Linked DNA regions of Homo sapiens: region 2 is linked to region 1. The links come from fine-mapping of genetic effects on gene expression. Tissue or cell type: lung. Region 1 holds a variant in brackets; the other region holds the start of a gene. All regions are shown on one strand. Distances are from middle to middle.

Evidence for each region. PIP is the estimated chance that this variant, and not a neighbour inherited with it, causes the effect.
Region 2: it holds the start of FKBP9, and the variant in region 1 is fine-mapped to the expression of FKBP9 in lung (TOPMed, PIP above 0.99).

The regions. Positions count from the first base shown.
Region 1 is chr7:33,016,952-33,025,059 of GRCh38, forward strand. NT5C3A (5'-nucleotidase, cytosolic IIIA) reads right to left here. Exons shown (of 9, transcript NM_001002010.5): 3 at 7,088-7,157; 4 at 5,102-5,148; 5 at 4,321-4,406; 6 at 2,684-2,773; 7 at 488-650. Among named protein-coding and RNA genes, the nearest start is that of NT5C3A, 42 kb to the right of the region's middle. The variant T/C (reference allele first, on the strand shown) is at 3,704.
Region 2 is chr7:32,953,513-32,961,620 of GRCh38, forward strand. It overlaps FKBP9 (FKBP prolyl isomerase 9), which reads left to right and starts at 3,928. Exons shown (of 10, transcript NM_007270.5): 1 at 3,928-4,282. The coding sequence starts at 4,062. RefSeq lists enhancers at 2,775-3,725, 3,575-3,624 and a silencer at 3,715-4,184.

The DNA of each region.
Region 1 (8,108 bases):
GTGGGAGGATAACTTGTGGTCAGGAGTTCGAGACCAACCTGGCCAACATGGTGAAACCCTATCTCTACCAAAAATACAAAAATTAGCCGGGTGTGGTGGCAGACGCTTGTAATCCCAGCTACTCGAGAGGCTGAGGCAGAAGAATTGCTTGAACCCAGGAGACAGAGGTTACAATGTGCTGAGATTGTGCTACTGCACTCCAGCCTGGGCAACAGAGTGAGACTCCATCTCAAAAAAAAAAAAAAAAAAGAAGAAGTTTTACTACTTTTATTATTAGTCTATAGCTTGGGGAATGAAAGTTTAAGAAGGGCACATTGTTTTTAAAATATGGATATATTAACACTGAGAAGGATGGAGTCCCACAGTGGGCCTATCGGCTTGGCCTAATTTCTGGATATAGGATATATATTAAGTAACAATAAATAAATTTACATGATTAAAATATTTTCAGATTTTAAAATTATGAAGAACGATTTGATATTCTTACAGTTTCATCAAAATCCATAAAATTGGACACAACTTTGACATTGGGATGATAAACACCAGCTTGACGAATAACTTCCTCTAGTACATCGCCGATTCCAGCCGAAAATATGAACACGGGGATGCTATGTTGTTGGAGCTTATCAAAGAAATTCTCATATCCTTCTCTGTAAGATGGAGATAACAAACTGGTTATTAAAGAGCAAGATATAGTTCCTTTTTACTTAGAAGCTAAAAAAGTGAAATATTCCTAGTAATTCTATGGCTCACTCATATTCTCATTTCAATATACTGCCCAAGAGGGCTGTTATTGATATCTACAATACTACAAGTTTTTCAAACAACAGTTAACTCTTTACTTTCCCTTTAATCAATTCTAATACTACAAACTAGATGTCTTTAAGCTTTCACTGAATATGAATATAAACCTACAGTTCACAATTTATACCATTTAAAAAGAAATAGGCAGGCATAGCAGTGCATGCCTATAGTCCCAGCTATTTGGGAGGCTGAGGCTTGAGGATTGCTTGAGCCCAGGAGTTCTAGTCCACTCTGGGCAACATAGCGAGACCCTGTCTCTAAAATGAAATTTAAAAAGAGAAAACAATAGTTAAGCTACACCTTGAAAACCCCACTTAGGGGTTAAAACATGGATATATTAACACTGAGAAGGATGGAGTCCCATAGTGGGCCTATCAACTTGGCCTAACTTAATGGATATATATTGACCAACAACAAATACATTTACATGATTAAAATATTTTCAGATTTTAAAATTATGAAGAATGACTTGATATTCTTACAGTTTCATCAAAATCCATAAAATTGAAAAGAAAAGCAGAGTGGCAGGAACTTAGATGTATTCTCGACATCTGGCATGTGTCTTTACTAAGATCTTAAGCCCTCTTCCCTTTTTTACCCTTCCTGGGCCATAGGTTAAAGAATGCTAATGTTGCCTACTAAGGAATGAAACACTTACTAGCTGTCCTCACACTTTTTCTGACAATTTATTGCTTTCCTTTTTAGAAGTAATCACCTTAAAATATAACATCATCATAAAAAAGTAACATCATCATATTTGCCTAATGAGTTGAAAATTTTACGAGGTAATAAACAGTATTAAACAGGCTCTTGGGCCGGGCGCAGTGGCTCACGCCTGTAACCCCAGCACTTTGGGAGGCGGAGATGCGCAGATCACAAGGTCAGGAGATCGAGACCATCCTGGCTAACTCGGTGAAACCCCGTCTCTACTAAAAATACAAAAAATTAGCCGGGCGTGGTGGCGGGCGCCTGAAGTCCTGGCTAGTCAGGAGACTGAGGCAGGAGAATGGCGTGAACCTGGGAGGCGGAGCTTACACCACTGCACTCCAGCCTGGGTGACAGAGCGAGACTCCATCTCAAAAAAAAAAGAAAAAAAAAAGCTTCTTGTATCTTATAACTCATGCATACATATATAATTATGTACTAAAACATACTAATCTTTCCTAGGAATAGTTTTCAAAGAAGTTCGAGAATTTAAAAAGTAGGCTTATGTAAATTTAGACATAGTATACTGCCAGGCATGGTGGCTCACACATATAATCCCAGCACTTTGGGATCGCTTGAGCTCAAGAGTTCAAGACCAGTCTGGGCAACATGGTGAAATCCCATCTTTACAAAAATATACAAAAATTAGCCAGGCATGGTGGTGCATGACTGTAGTCCCAGCTACTTGAGAGGCTGAGGCAAGGGGATCGCTTGAGCCCAGGAGGCAGAGGTTGAACTGAGGAAGAGATTATGTCACTACACTCTAACCTGGGCAACAGAGAGAGACCCTGTCTTTAAAAAAAAAAAAAAGTATACTTAAATCCCTTTTAACTTGATTTATACATTCCTTTCATATGTCTTTCCTAAGTATTTTGCTAAAAAATTTTTAAATGGCCTTGGTTCAAAAATTTTAAGTCTTGACATTTTTAATCTGGAGAAACAAAATACAAATTAGAATTTAAATCTCATAAGGCTCTTACTACCTACACCAAGATCTAATACGTCATTCTAAATTCCTTATCTTACCACTATGTATTTTGTGATAGGTGGCATATTTTGGATATGGTTATATAAGGAATATTCAATCTTATTTTTAAAAAGTACAACTGACTACATAAATAGCAATAATTCAAGTCTGTGAACAATAACAGCAAAAAACATCCAAGAAACTTACTTGAGCATAACGTCAGATTCTGCCACAATTTCTTTAAGTTTAGCTTTTGGTAAAGCTTGCTGAACAAGCAAACCATGTGATTTAGTATACCTGGAGTTTATGACCAAAGGAAAAAAGACTATCAATTAAGACAAACTAAAATTATTATCTTTATTACAAAACATTCTTCCATGTGAGAAAATCTGTTCCTCATATTTGGATTTAAATTTTAGAGATTGAAGTTCATCACTAATGAATGTATACCTCATGTCTCAAAATGTGATATGCATGTTCTTACTGAGTTTCCCAGTCCTCCCAAACCCAGACTTAGCTTAAATATGTTAGTAAGGTAATGAAAGGAAACTAGCTATAAACCTTTCCTAATTCTACACATAAAAACTCAACCCAACCTATGGAAGCATAATCCTTTCTCTGATTGCAGTAAAATGAATTAGAGCAACCCCATTTTTAAAATTTGTTTGTAGTTTGAATTTTCTACATACTGAAGATGCTACTTAGTGAACAAGAGAGAAAATCTTTGTTATGGCAAGTGTCATATACAGATTAGCCTGCTTTATGTAGAAAACACCTATAATCATAGCATCTCAGTATAAAGGGCCCTTAGACTCTCTAACCCATTACAATTATGCAAACAGCCACTAAAAACAGAAAGAAAGAAACGAAAAGAAAAAAAAGCCTAACTCTTCATCTGATACCTAAAAATACCCCTATAATATTCCTAAGTCACCTTCTTCCCTGCCTGGGTCAGCTTCTAACATGTCAGTAAGCTCATTCTCCCAGGGAAGCTTATTCCATTGCCAGAAAACTCTTAATTGCTAGACAGGCTTTTCATTTCTCATGCTGAAATCAATCTTCTTATATCTTCCAAGTCTAGTTCCAGTTCTGCTGCTACCAGTTTGTAGAGTTAAGTCTAATATCTTTTCAACATTTAGTACCACAAATACAGATGAAGTATGCAACTGTTACGTAACGGGACAATAAAGACAAATCATTCCTGGTCTCCTAAGATTTTAAAACAAG[T/C]TGTTCCTTCTCAAATCAAAGCATTTTCTATTCCTTGAAATGTTCGTCAAGTGGGAAGGCTCAAATTCCTCTGATCATTCTGGTGGACTACTCTGACTCCTTTTAAGTTTGTCATGATCTATTTTTTTTTTTTTTGGTCACTATTGTCATGGTTTCTCTTAACAGCATTCTTCCAGAATCCGACACAGTGCTTTCAGTGTGATCTGCCTGGAACACTGCATTTTGATTAATGCAACCAAAGGTCGATTTTTGGGTAACCATATCACCTGCTGGCTCTGAGTTCAGACTCAGTTTAAATCCTCATACCTTTTCTTTACACATTAAGCCACGTTTTGTTCATATACTTAAAAAAAAATTCTTGTTTTTAATTTGAGACTTAAATGCAGGACTTTTAATTTATTCCTACTGGACTTCACCTTAAATAAACAAAACAAAAGGATTCCTAAACTGTTAGAGAGATTAGATAATTAGAGCTCATTTTGTTATTCAATGCTCTAACTTGCATAATTTATTAATCTGTTTGTTTGCAATACAGGTAAAAAATAAGCCATCAGTTGTAACTGCAGTGTTGTTTTATTATTTTTTTTTAATCCTCCTACTGCCTAATATACACTTACCATTCCACCATATAAGGGTACTTCTCTTCTACAGTAAGAACAGGATCAACTTCAATAGCGTAATATTTTTCCTTTAGTTGCAATAACTAGGAAGATATGAATAACTTAATCATGAAGATTACTTGAAAATAAATCTGCTTGGTTTTATAGAAAGCAAAACAATGTAAACAAGTATTTTCAACAAACTGCTTTAAAAGTTGAGCTAATGCATCAATTGAAAAAATATTTGTTGATCTTAGTTGACATGTAATCAAATATACCTGCAAAAAGCTACCTTTCTTTTGTAAAGTACTTTCAGATGAGTAAAAACCAACAATAAAATTATCAGTACAAAAAACACTTTAGTTTTCATATAAAGGTATTAAATTTGATTCACATTTCAAATTGCATTTTGTTAAGATATACACAGACACATACATACTCAAGCGAAGTACTGAAGCAACTTCCTCATCAACTTAAAGGAGCAAAACCTATAGAAAACTGAAGTACTTTTGTTTTAAATCTCCAGTTAACGTTACAACACCAGAATACTTTGGTAATCATTTAAGAGTTTTAAATATAAGTTTTGTTGTCAAGTTACTGTGAATTTTTATCTTTAAAATATGTTTTGAATGTGTAATTCATACAGCAAACCTACTATTTACTGAGTGCTTACTATGTGCCAGGTATGGCTGTAAGCACTTTACATCCATTCTTACTTCTGTGAATGCACCTGAAGAAATTCTCAGGCAAAAAGGGTAATGAAGTCTTTGAGTGACTATAGATTGTTGTTAGTGTTTACCTTTTTTCTACATTCATCTGTAACCAGCTTACAGTTGTCAATGATATCTAAAGATAGAAAGCAAAATAAGCATTAAAAGAAATACTCTGATTTATGCTACCACTACTATGAATAATTTGCTATAAAGTAATGGCAAAAAACTCAATTACTTTTGCACCAACCCAATACTTTTAAGTAATGCCAAGTCAACTAGCATGGTTATTATAACTTTTGGTGTCAGTGGTATAATTCACATGACATTGTTAAAGAAGCTAATGGCTTAAAATCTGAGATTCAGTGACTGCTCGCTTACATCACTGAGATAGACAATTCAATATCTTCAAATACTATGAACTGTGTATTGATCACTTCCATTTTCTACTTTGTAATTAAATATAAGAAACACATATGGGAAATACATTTTTTTCGTAATAAAAAGATAATAAATGCTTAACGTAAACATCTGGAAAATCCAGACCACTGTAAAGAAGAAAACAAAAATTGAATGGTAAAAGGTTTTAGCATTCAATAATAAGTAATGAACAATATTTTAGTATATTTCCTTTCAGTCTTAAGATTTCATGTATATCAATTAGATAAGAGATCATACCAAATCTGTAATTTTGAATTTTCTTTTTCATTTCACATTGTAGTCTGCATTTTTCCATGTAATTAAAATTTCTGGTATGTGAGCAGAAAATAATTTATATCATTTCTGCAGCATTAAACTTTTTAGGTTGCTTCCAAGCATCTGCTATTAGTAATAATTTTATGTTGAGCTTAGTCACCATTATTTTTGTGAATAAAGTTTTTTAAAAACTGCATTTGAGATTATTAGAAATTCTCCAAAGAGGACTTAATAGGGCAAAGGATATGAAGATTTTTAGTGTTTTTTTTTTTTTTCGAGACAGGGTCTTGTTTTGTCATCCAGGCTGGAGTGCAGTGGTGCGATTATGGCTCACTATAGACTTGCCCTCCCAGGCTCAAGGACCCTCTCAGCCTCCCAAATGAGTAGCTGGGACCACAGGCATGCCACAATGCCCAGCTAATTTTTTATTTTTTGTAAGAAAAGGTCTTATTATGTTGCTCAGGCTGGTCTCAAACTCCTGGGCTCAAGTGATTATTCCACCTCCACCTCCCGAAGTGCTGGGATTACAGGCGTGAGCCACTGTGCCTGGCGATTTTTAGCATTTTTTTAATACAAGTTATCAAAATAATTTTTCTTTTCCTTTTTTACTTTTTTTTGAGATGAAGTTTCACTCTGTTGCCCAGGCTGGAGCGCAGTTGTGCAATCTTGGCTCACTGCAAACTCCACGTCCCGGGTTCAAGTGATTCTCCTGCCTCAGCCTCCTGAGTAGCTGGGATTACAGGTGCCCGCCACCATGCCCAGCTAATTTTTGTATTTTTAGTAGAGACAGGGTTTCATCATTTTGGTCAGGCTGGTCTTGAACTCCTGACTGCAAATGATCTGCCCGCCTCAGCTTCCCAAAATGCCGAGATTACAGGCATGAGTGACCGCACCCAGCCCCAAAATAATTTTTCAATTTACACATGTACTAAAAGCAAATGAGAGAGTTCATTTCACCGTTTCCCTGTCAGGTTGAAGAGTGTTATTTTAAAAACTCACAGCCAAGTTGGAAAACAAAAAAGACATTAAAATTTGGTAAAATTCCTAGAAAACAAAGTATTTGATAAATGGTGTTTCTTCAGGTTAACCCAAAGTTTACAACCTATTTAAATATTTCTTGAATAATGAATAGACCATATTTGGCAAGAAATATTTCAGGAGTCTCTGATTCCCTTTGCTACCAAAACCATACATGAAAATAACCATTTATATAATATGGGAAAAAAAACCTCAAAAATATAATAAGAAAAAGCAGGTCTCCTCACTGTCAATGTCCAAGAAGAATTTTAAAAACCCAGTTATCTCACAGGTAATATAAAGAGGATCTTAAAATAATGATGACATGCTTTTGTGAATTTGTTTACAAATATCACACTTACTATGACATGTTGGGCATCTTTTCCCTTTATATGAAAATCTACTGAGTGTCATATCAAAGTCCGTTATTATCTGTAAGAAAAGAGTGAAATGCATTATTGTAAACATAGCCCACATGGCCAGAATTTCTCTGTGCTACCCAAACACATACTTCATGCTTTCCTAGATGCATAGGACTGTGCTCAAGTCTCTGGTCCACACTGTTAACTTATTCTCTTTACATTGAATTTTCTCATGCGGTTCCTTTATAAAGTCCTGGGAATAATCTTAACTACAAGGTGCTACCTTGAGTGCCCTAGTGTTTTCACCAAATAAATCTGATTCGTAATTCAGCCATAAAAAACAAAGAGATGCTGTCATCTGCAGCAACATGGGCGAGCCTGGAGGTCATTATCTTAAGTGAAATAAGACAGGCACAGAAAGACAAATATTATATGTTCTTACTCATATGTGAAAACTTAAAAAGTTGATCTCATGGAAACAGAGAGTAGAAAGACGGTTACCAGAGGCTGGGAAGGGTGGGAGGGTTGGTGAGATAAAGAACAGCTGGTTAATGGTTATGAAAATACTGTTAGAAGGAATAAGTTCTAGTGTTTACACAGTGGAATGACTATAGTAAACAGTATTTTATTGTATATTTCAAAACAGCTAGAAGAAAAGATTTAGAATGTTCCCAAAACAAAGAATAAATATTAGAAGTGGCAGATATCCTAATTACCCTGATTTGATTATTGCACATTTTATATACATTTGAAAATATCACATGTACCGCATATATATATACAGTTATTATGTATCGACTTTAAAAATTGAAAAAATCCAGCCAGGCACGGTGGCTCATGCCTGGAATCCCAGCACTTTGGGAGGCCGAGGTGGGGAGATCACTCGAGGTCAGGAGTTTGAGATCAGCCTGGCCAAGATGGTAAAACCTTGTCTCTACTAAAAATACAAAAATAGCCAGGTGTGGTGGCATGTGCCTGTAATCCCAGCTACTCAGGAAGCTGAGGCAGGAGAATCACTTGA
Region 2 (8,108 bases), 63 kb before region 1:
GTTCAAGTGATTCTCCTGCCTCAGCCTCCCGAGTAGCTGGGATTACAGATGCCTGCCACCACGCCCAGCTAATTTTTGTATTTTTAGTAGAGACGGGGTTTCACCATCTTGGCCAGGCTGGTCTTGAACTCCTGACCTCATGATCCACCCGCCTCAGCCTCTCAAAGTGCTGGGATTACAGGCGTGAGCCACCATGCCTGGCCGTAAGTTGTTTTTTTTTTTTTTTTTTTTTTTTTTTTGAGATGGAGTCTTGCTCTGTCGCCAGGCTGGAGTGCAGTGGTGCGATCTCAACTCACTGCAAGCTCCCCTTCCCGGGTTCACGCCATTCTCCTGCCTCAGCCTCCTGAGTAGCTGGGACTACAGGCGCCCGCTACCACGCCCGGCTAATTTTTGTATTTTTAGTAGAGATGGGGTTTCACCGTGTTAGCCAGGATGGTCTCGATCTCCTGTCCTCGCGATCCGCCCGCCTCGGCCTCCCAAAGTGTTGGGATTACAGGCGTGAGCCACAGCGCCTGGCCAAGTATTTTTTTAATTTATCATTTGTCTTTAAAAAATTTGTGACATTTTTTAATAGCAAGATTTTTTTTTTCTTTTTTGAGACAGAGTCGTGGTATGTTGCCCAGGCTGGACTTGAACTTCTGGGCTCAAGAGATCCTCCCACCTCAGGCTCTCAAGTAGTTAGGACTACAGGCTCCTAGATCCTGCCACCACGAGCAGACATTCATTTTTATTTTATTTTATATATATTTTTAGACAGGCTCTCACTCTGTCACCTAGGCTGGAGTGCAGTGGTGTGATCACAATTCATTGCAGCCTCCATCTTCTAGGTTGAAGATGATCTTCCACCTCAGCCTCCGAAGTAGCTGAACGGGGACTACAGGTGCAGGCCGCCCTGCTCTACCTTTTTTTTTTTTTTTTTTTTTTTTTTTTGAGACAAAGTCTCTCTCTGTCACCCAGGCCAATTGTGCAGTGGTGAAATCATGGCTCACTGCAGCCTCAACATCCAGGGCTCAAGCGATCCTCCAACATCAGCTTCCCAAATAGCTGGGACTACAGGCACACACCACCACATCTGGCTAATTTTTGTTTGGTTTTTGTTTTTCTTTTTGAGACAGGGTATCACTCAGTTGCCCAGGCTGGAGTTTATTTTTTCTGTAAAGTAGTGATTACACCTATGACCTTATACAGAGTTGTCATGAAGATTGGACTTCTTGGCATCTAGTTCAAAAGATCAAGTTTCAAATCCCAAGTCTTTACCAATTAATATGTATTGTATGTTTAGCGTCTGAGCCTAGAAACTAATTCAGCACCAAGATATTTCCCCAAATTGCCGTAAGAGGTCAGTAGGCAAGATAAGTATCATCTGTTTTACAGTCAAGGGTGGAAGTAAGAAGTTACCTGACTTGCCTGAAGCCACGGAGACATAAGTGAAGCAAAGACTGGACCAAAGTATATGTGTAGTGAATGAACTGAATGTCTGAATTCATGCCAATAAAATGTATAACAATTTTTATTATCAATGATTATATACTTCAAAATCAAGGTATTGTTTGACAACACAAAGATGACATGCAAAAGTACTTTTTGGTGGTCAGTGCCATTAATAGACTTAATAGACTACAATCAGAAAGTTTTTTCTTTTTTTTTTTTTTTTTTTTTTGAGATAGAGTTTTGCTCTGTCACCCAGGCTGGAGTGCAATTGTGCGATCTTGGCTCAGTGCAACCTCTGCCTCTGGGGTTCAAGCGATTCTCCTGCCTCAGCCACCGGAGTAGCTGGGATTATAGGCATGCAACACCACACCTAGCTAATTTTTGTACTTTTAGTAGAGACGGGGTTTCACCAGGTTGCCCAGGCTGGTCTCAAACTCCTGAGATCAAGCAATCTGCCCCCCTTGGCCTCCCAAAGTGCTGGGATTACAGGGGTGAGTAATTTTTGTATTTTTTCGTAGAGGTGGGGTTTTGCCATGTTGCCCAGGCTGGTCTCAAACTCCTGGGCTCAAGTGATACTCCTGCCTCGGCCTTCTAAAGTGCCAGGATTACAGAAGTGAGCCACCAGGCCCTCTGTTTGTTTTCAAAATCAGAGGTAGATGTTGAATTTTATCTCATGCCGTTTTGAGTCTATGGCCACATGATCTTAGAGCTTTTTTTCCCTTCTTCTGTCCTATAATTTTATTAATAGGTGTTCTATTTCTAGAATAAGCTCTAAGATGAACAATGAACATTTTTCTTGTTATTCATGTAGTTTCTCATTCGATCCCTGAAACCTAAGATTATAGTAATCTTATAATGATTGTTTTATCTTCATCTTACAGAGAACACTGACATTTTGTTAATTTACAGAAGCTCACCTAGGTAGCCCATGTAATGGTATATTTTTCCTTTAACATACCGTTTTTTAAATTTTTTATTTATTTTTTTTTTGAGGCAGAGTCTCACTCTGTCGCCTGGGCTGGAGTGCAGTGGTGCAATTTAGTGGCACAATCTCGGCTCATTGCAACCTTCGACTCCCAGGTTCCAGCAATTTTTCTGCCTCAGCCTCCCAAGTAGCTGGGACTACAGGCCGTGCCACCACACCCTGCTAATTTTTGTATTTTTAGTAGAGCCAGGGTTTCACCATGTTGGACAGGCTGGTCTTGAACTCCTGACTTCAGGTGATCCAACCACCTCGGCCTCCCAAAGTGCTAGGGTTACAGGTGTGAGCCACTGCGCCTGGCCTAATATGCGGTTGAATCCGATTTTATTACGTTTTATTCAGTATTTTTGCATTTATATTTATAAATTAGATCGTGCCCTGTTTTTTCAGTTTTATTTTTCTTTTTTGTTGCTCTCTTTGCCAGGTTTTGGTATCAGAATTGTGTTTGCTTCCAAAACGAGTTGAGAAAGAGTTGGTGATTTGCTTTCATTATTCCAAAATTTTAATAAATTATAACACCCAATTCCAATTCCAAGTGCATCTGATTACTCTAATGGATTCCTGTGGCTTCTGGGTCTCTATGATGAAGTCCTCCCTGGCATAGGCTCGTATATGGGAGCTTGTAGGATGTCTGCAAGTATCAGCTCACAGTGCGGCCGCTGATGGCTTGGAGGACCCTCACGGTGCCTTAAAACTTTTGCCTAGACAAGTGTCACGGGAGCCTCTCGCAATACATGCCTCCCTTTTCTTTTTTTGGAGACAGTGTCTCGTACTGTCGCCAGGGCTGGTGTGCAGTGGCGCGATCTCGGCTCGCTGCAACCTCCGCCTCCCGGGTTCCAGCGATTCTCCTACCTCAGCCTCCCGAGTAGCTGGGACTACAGGCACGCGCCACCAAGCCTGGCTAATTTTTTTGTATTTTTAGTAGAGACGGGGTTTCATCATGTTGGCCAGGATGGTCTCCATCTCCTGACCTCGTGATCCGCCTGCCTTGGCCTCCCAAAGCGTTGGGATTACAGGCGTGAGCCACGGCGCCCGGCCTTCCTTTTCCTTTAAGCAGTATTAAAAAAAAAAAAAAAAAGTCCTGAAGGATGGTTTCGGTCTCTTTCAAGGTAGACCATACCCTTGTAACTAAGCTTAAAAAATTAAAATCTAATTTTCCCTCCCTCTCCAAAGCAGCAAGGGAAAATTGGATCCACGGCCACGTAGGAGCCCCTCACGGCACCAAACCCGGTGTCTCCAGGGACGGGCGGAGACCAGCGGGTGGGCTTGGGCAGTACGCGCTTTTCTCTTCCGACTTTGGGCCAAAGCCTTGTCCGGAGATCACAGTGTCTCGCTCGGGGACACGCCCTCTCTAGGCCCAGACTTGGTCCCCACTGGAGTTCCCAGCCCCCCTCCCCGCTGCGGCACGCACATTCCCAATGCCGGGCGGGGCAGGGCGCAGCAGGCCCGCCCTCGGCGCGCGGCCAGGCTGGGCTCCTCCCCTGGAGCTGCGGCCGGGAGGGCGGGCGGCCGGGGAGACGGGGTGGCGGCTGCAGCCCGGGTAGGGCCAGGAGACCCGGTCCACGTTTGCAAACGCAGCCGAACGCCCAGGCCGACCCGTGCCGCCCGAGCGCCGCGCTGCGTCCGCGCCACTCTTCTCGCCGCCCCGATGGCGTTCCGGGGCTGGAGGCCCCCGCCGCCACCGCTGCTCCTGCTGCTGCTCTGGGTGACCGGGCAGGCAGCGCCCGTGGCGGGCCTGGGCTCCGACGCGGAGCTGCAGATCGAGCGGCGCTTCGTGCCCGACGAGTGCCCGCGCACCGTGCGCAGCGGCGACTTCGTGCGCTACCACTACGTGGGGACGTTCCCCGACGGCCAGAAGTTCGACTCCAGGTACCGCGCCCTTGGCGCCCGGCGCGGCCTCAGCGGATGCGCGTCCCTCTCTCCGGACAGGCCTTTCCCTCCTGCCGGACCTCCCCTAGCTCCGCCCCGTGCAGCCGCGCTCCTCCCTTCTTCCGCTGCCCAGATCCTCCCGGACCCCAGACCCTCCGCCGCGGGTGAGCCTCCCGGCCCTCACGTGCCCTAGGCTGCCAGCCGGGGACTGGACCCTTGGAGGACCTTGAGCAGCGGGGTTGGGGCAGACCACGTCCTCCCTTTCCTCCCAGCGCATGGACACACGCAAAATCAGTGTAAAATAATCAGTGTAAGTGGAGGCCACGTTGCACAACTGGACCCCCAAGAGTGGATGTTCGTGCCTGCCTCTCTTCGCCCTTTCCTGTTCCTTCCCTCCGCTCCCTTGGGAATCTAGTCAGATGGTGCTTCTCACACAGAACAATGATGAAGAGGCTAGCAGCCCCAAACATACAATGAGCTGTTAACAATGTGTAGGTGTAGTTCTAAGTACTTTCCATATTGTAGTGAACTCATTTAATTGTACAGCAGTCTTGTGAGGTAGGTACTATCACTACCCTCATTTTATCAGTAAGGTAACAAGCAACTGCGGCTAAGAAACGTGTTTAAACAATGGAGTCAGATTGTTTAATCCAACTCCAGAGTCTGTGTGCGCAACTACCACTGCCCTTCCTTTCCTGCCATACAAAAACCTCTCTTGGGGCTGGGCGTGGTGGCTCACGCCTGTAGTCCCAGCACTTTGAGAGAACGAGGCGGGAGGATCGCTTGAGCCCAGGAGTTTGGGGCTGCTGTGAGCTATGATCGTGCCATTGCACTGCAGCCTGGGAGACAGAGAGAGATCCCATCACAAAACAAAACACAACACGACACCTCTCGTGGGCAGGAGGTAGTCCAGGACCGTCACTCTGCTTTATACCAGGCCCTATATCAAGCCCAGAACTCCTTCTCTCAGCTCTGCCTCAGGATCACAGCACTGCTCTCCCGTTTCCCTCCAGTTTAGGTTCGGGGTTAACAGGCCTCTCTTCGTCCAGCACCAGGCTACTCCTCGCCAAGGCTTTTGTTACAAACCCTGGTCTGTGCCAGCACTTCCCTTCGCGAACACTAGATCAGGCAGAGAGAGCTATTTGTTGAGCCCCTGCTATGTGCCCCAAGGCCTAGGGTCATTACGAATATTTTGTAGACTCTTGACTTTTTTGAAGTTCCAGACAATGAATATACAAAAGCTGTTCAGCATAGTATGTGGCACTAGCAAGCGCTTAGAAATGGTCATTCTTACTACCATTTTAGTTACTTTAAAAAAAAAAAACAACAGGCCGGGCGCGGTGGCTCACGCCTGTAATCCCAGCACTTTGGGAGGCCGAGGCGGGCGGATCACGAGGTCAGGAGATCGAGACCATCCTGGCTAACACGGTGAAACCCGGTCTCTACTAAAAATACAAAAAATTAGCCGGGCGAGGTGGCGGGCGCCTGTAATCCCAACTACGCGGGAGGTTGAGACAGGAGAATGGCGTGAACCTGGGAGGCGGAGCCTGCAGTGAGCCGAGACGTGCCACTGCACTCCAACCTGGGTGACAGGGAGACTCCGTCTCAAAAAACAAAACAAAACAAAAAACAAAAAACGAAACAAAAAAAACAGCTTTATTGAGATATAATGCCATACAATTTGCCCATTTGGTGTGTACAATTCAGTGTTTTTTAGTATATTCACAGAGTAGTGCAAACATCACAACTAGCTATTTCCAGAACATTTTCATCACCCCCAAAAAAGAAACGCTGGACCCATTATCAGTCACTCCCCAACCCCAGTTAGACTGCCCTCCAGTCCCTTTCAGCCACGAATCCACTTTATGTCTCTATGGATTTGCCTCTTCTGGACATTTTGTATAAATGGAATCATATAATTTGAGGTGCTTTGTTATTTATTTATAATTGGCTTCTTTCATGGTTCATTTACGGTGTAAGGTATATCAGTACTTCATTCCTTTTTGTGGCTGTATATGTAATATTCCATTGTGTCCATTCATCAGTTGATGGACATTTGGATTGCTTATACTTTTTGGCTATCATGAATGATGTTATGAACATTCATGTGCAAGGTTTTGTGTGGATGTACCTTTTCCTTTTTTTGGATATATACCTAGGAGTTGGAATTGCTGCGTCCTATGGCACCTATGTTATAAACGTTTTGAAGAATAGCCAACCTGTTTCCCCACAATGGCTGCACCATTTTACATTCCCACCAGCAGTGTATGAAGGTTCATAGTTCTCCACGGTCTCAACAACACTTGTACTTGTCTTTTTTTTTTTTTTTTTTTTTGAGATGGAATTTTGCTCTTGTCACCCAGGCTGGAGTGCAATGGTGCGATCACAGCTCACTGCAACCTCCCTGCCTCCCGGGTTCAAGCAATTCTCTTACCTCAGCCTCCTGAGTAGCTGGGATTACAGGTGCCTGCCACCACGCCTGGCTAATTTTTGTATTTTTAGTAGAGACGAGGTTTCACCATGTTGGCCAGGCTGGTCTTGAACTCCTGACCTCAGGTGATCTGCCCACCTCGGCCTCCCAAAGTGCTGGGATTACAGGCGGGAGCCACCACGCCTGGCCTGTGTCTTTGATTATAACCATTTAGTGGGTGTGAAATGATATCTCATTGTGGTTTCGATCTGCATTTCTCTAATGGCTAACGATGTTGAGCATCATATGCGTATTGACCATTTGTGTATCTTCTTTCATGTGCTTCTTTCATAGGGAAGAATTTCTTGCTTGAGTTGATGGTAATTAATTCCAGTAGAACAAGTTGTCCTACTATCTAGAACATCTCTAGGGCTGGCAGCCACTGTGAGGTAGTGTAGGGCAGTTGAAAGAGCATGGAGGATCTACCATCCATTCATCAAACGTTTTTCAGCGTCTATCCCTCAAGAGAGAGACTAGTCCTAGTCTAGTATGCTTCTTCCCCATCCCTACCACTTACAGCCTAGGCTATTACAACATGGTGTGATAAGTACAGTAAGACAGTAGCACACACTCTGTCTCTCATAGAGTTCACACATAGTTCTTACCATGTGCCTTCACATATGTTAACTCATTTAATCTTAGAATAATTTGTTTAACTTCTCAAGACAGTGAGGTAGGTACCTCATTACAAATGAATAAACTGAGGCTCAGAAAGTTCAAATGATTTGCCCAAGGAACATAAGTACTAAGTGGTTGAGTGGAGATTTGAACCCAGGTAGTTCATGGCCATAATCTATGGTCTGTAGTCCACCCATGTATATGACAGAAGAAAGGTAAGTAGCTATGAAAGCACAGAGAAGGTTTAACTATATATTTTTGTGTCTGTGTGTGGGGGAGGTTAGGATGGAATCCTGGTATGGCAGGGATAAGACCCAAGGATGATGAAAATTCACCTGGGAGGAGCTCAGGGGTGTGTCTGCAGACCCCAAGGTCCAGGCTTGTCTTTTGATAAATATTATTATGTGCCTACCACATACCTTTTTGGGTATACAGAGTTCTAGATGCTCTAGCACAGTAGTGTTTAAACTACATATACTTCTGAATCACGTAGAGAGCTTGTTATACAGTTTCCGATTCAGTAGCTCTGGGATAGGGCCTAGGAATTTGCTTTTCTGACAAGTTCCCAGCTGATGCTACTGGTCTGAGGACCACACTTTGAGAACCACTGCTCTAAAACAGGGGTACTGAAATGGGATATCAATTTACAAAAATAAATAAATAGTAAATAAATAAATAGAACAGGGGTCCCTAACCCCTGAGCCATGGACCTGTTGTGGTCTGTGGCCTGTTAGGAAC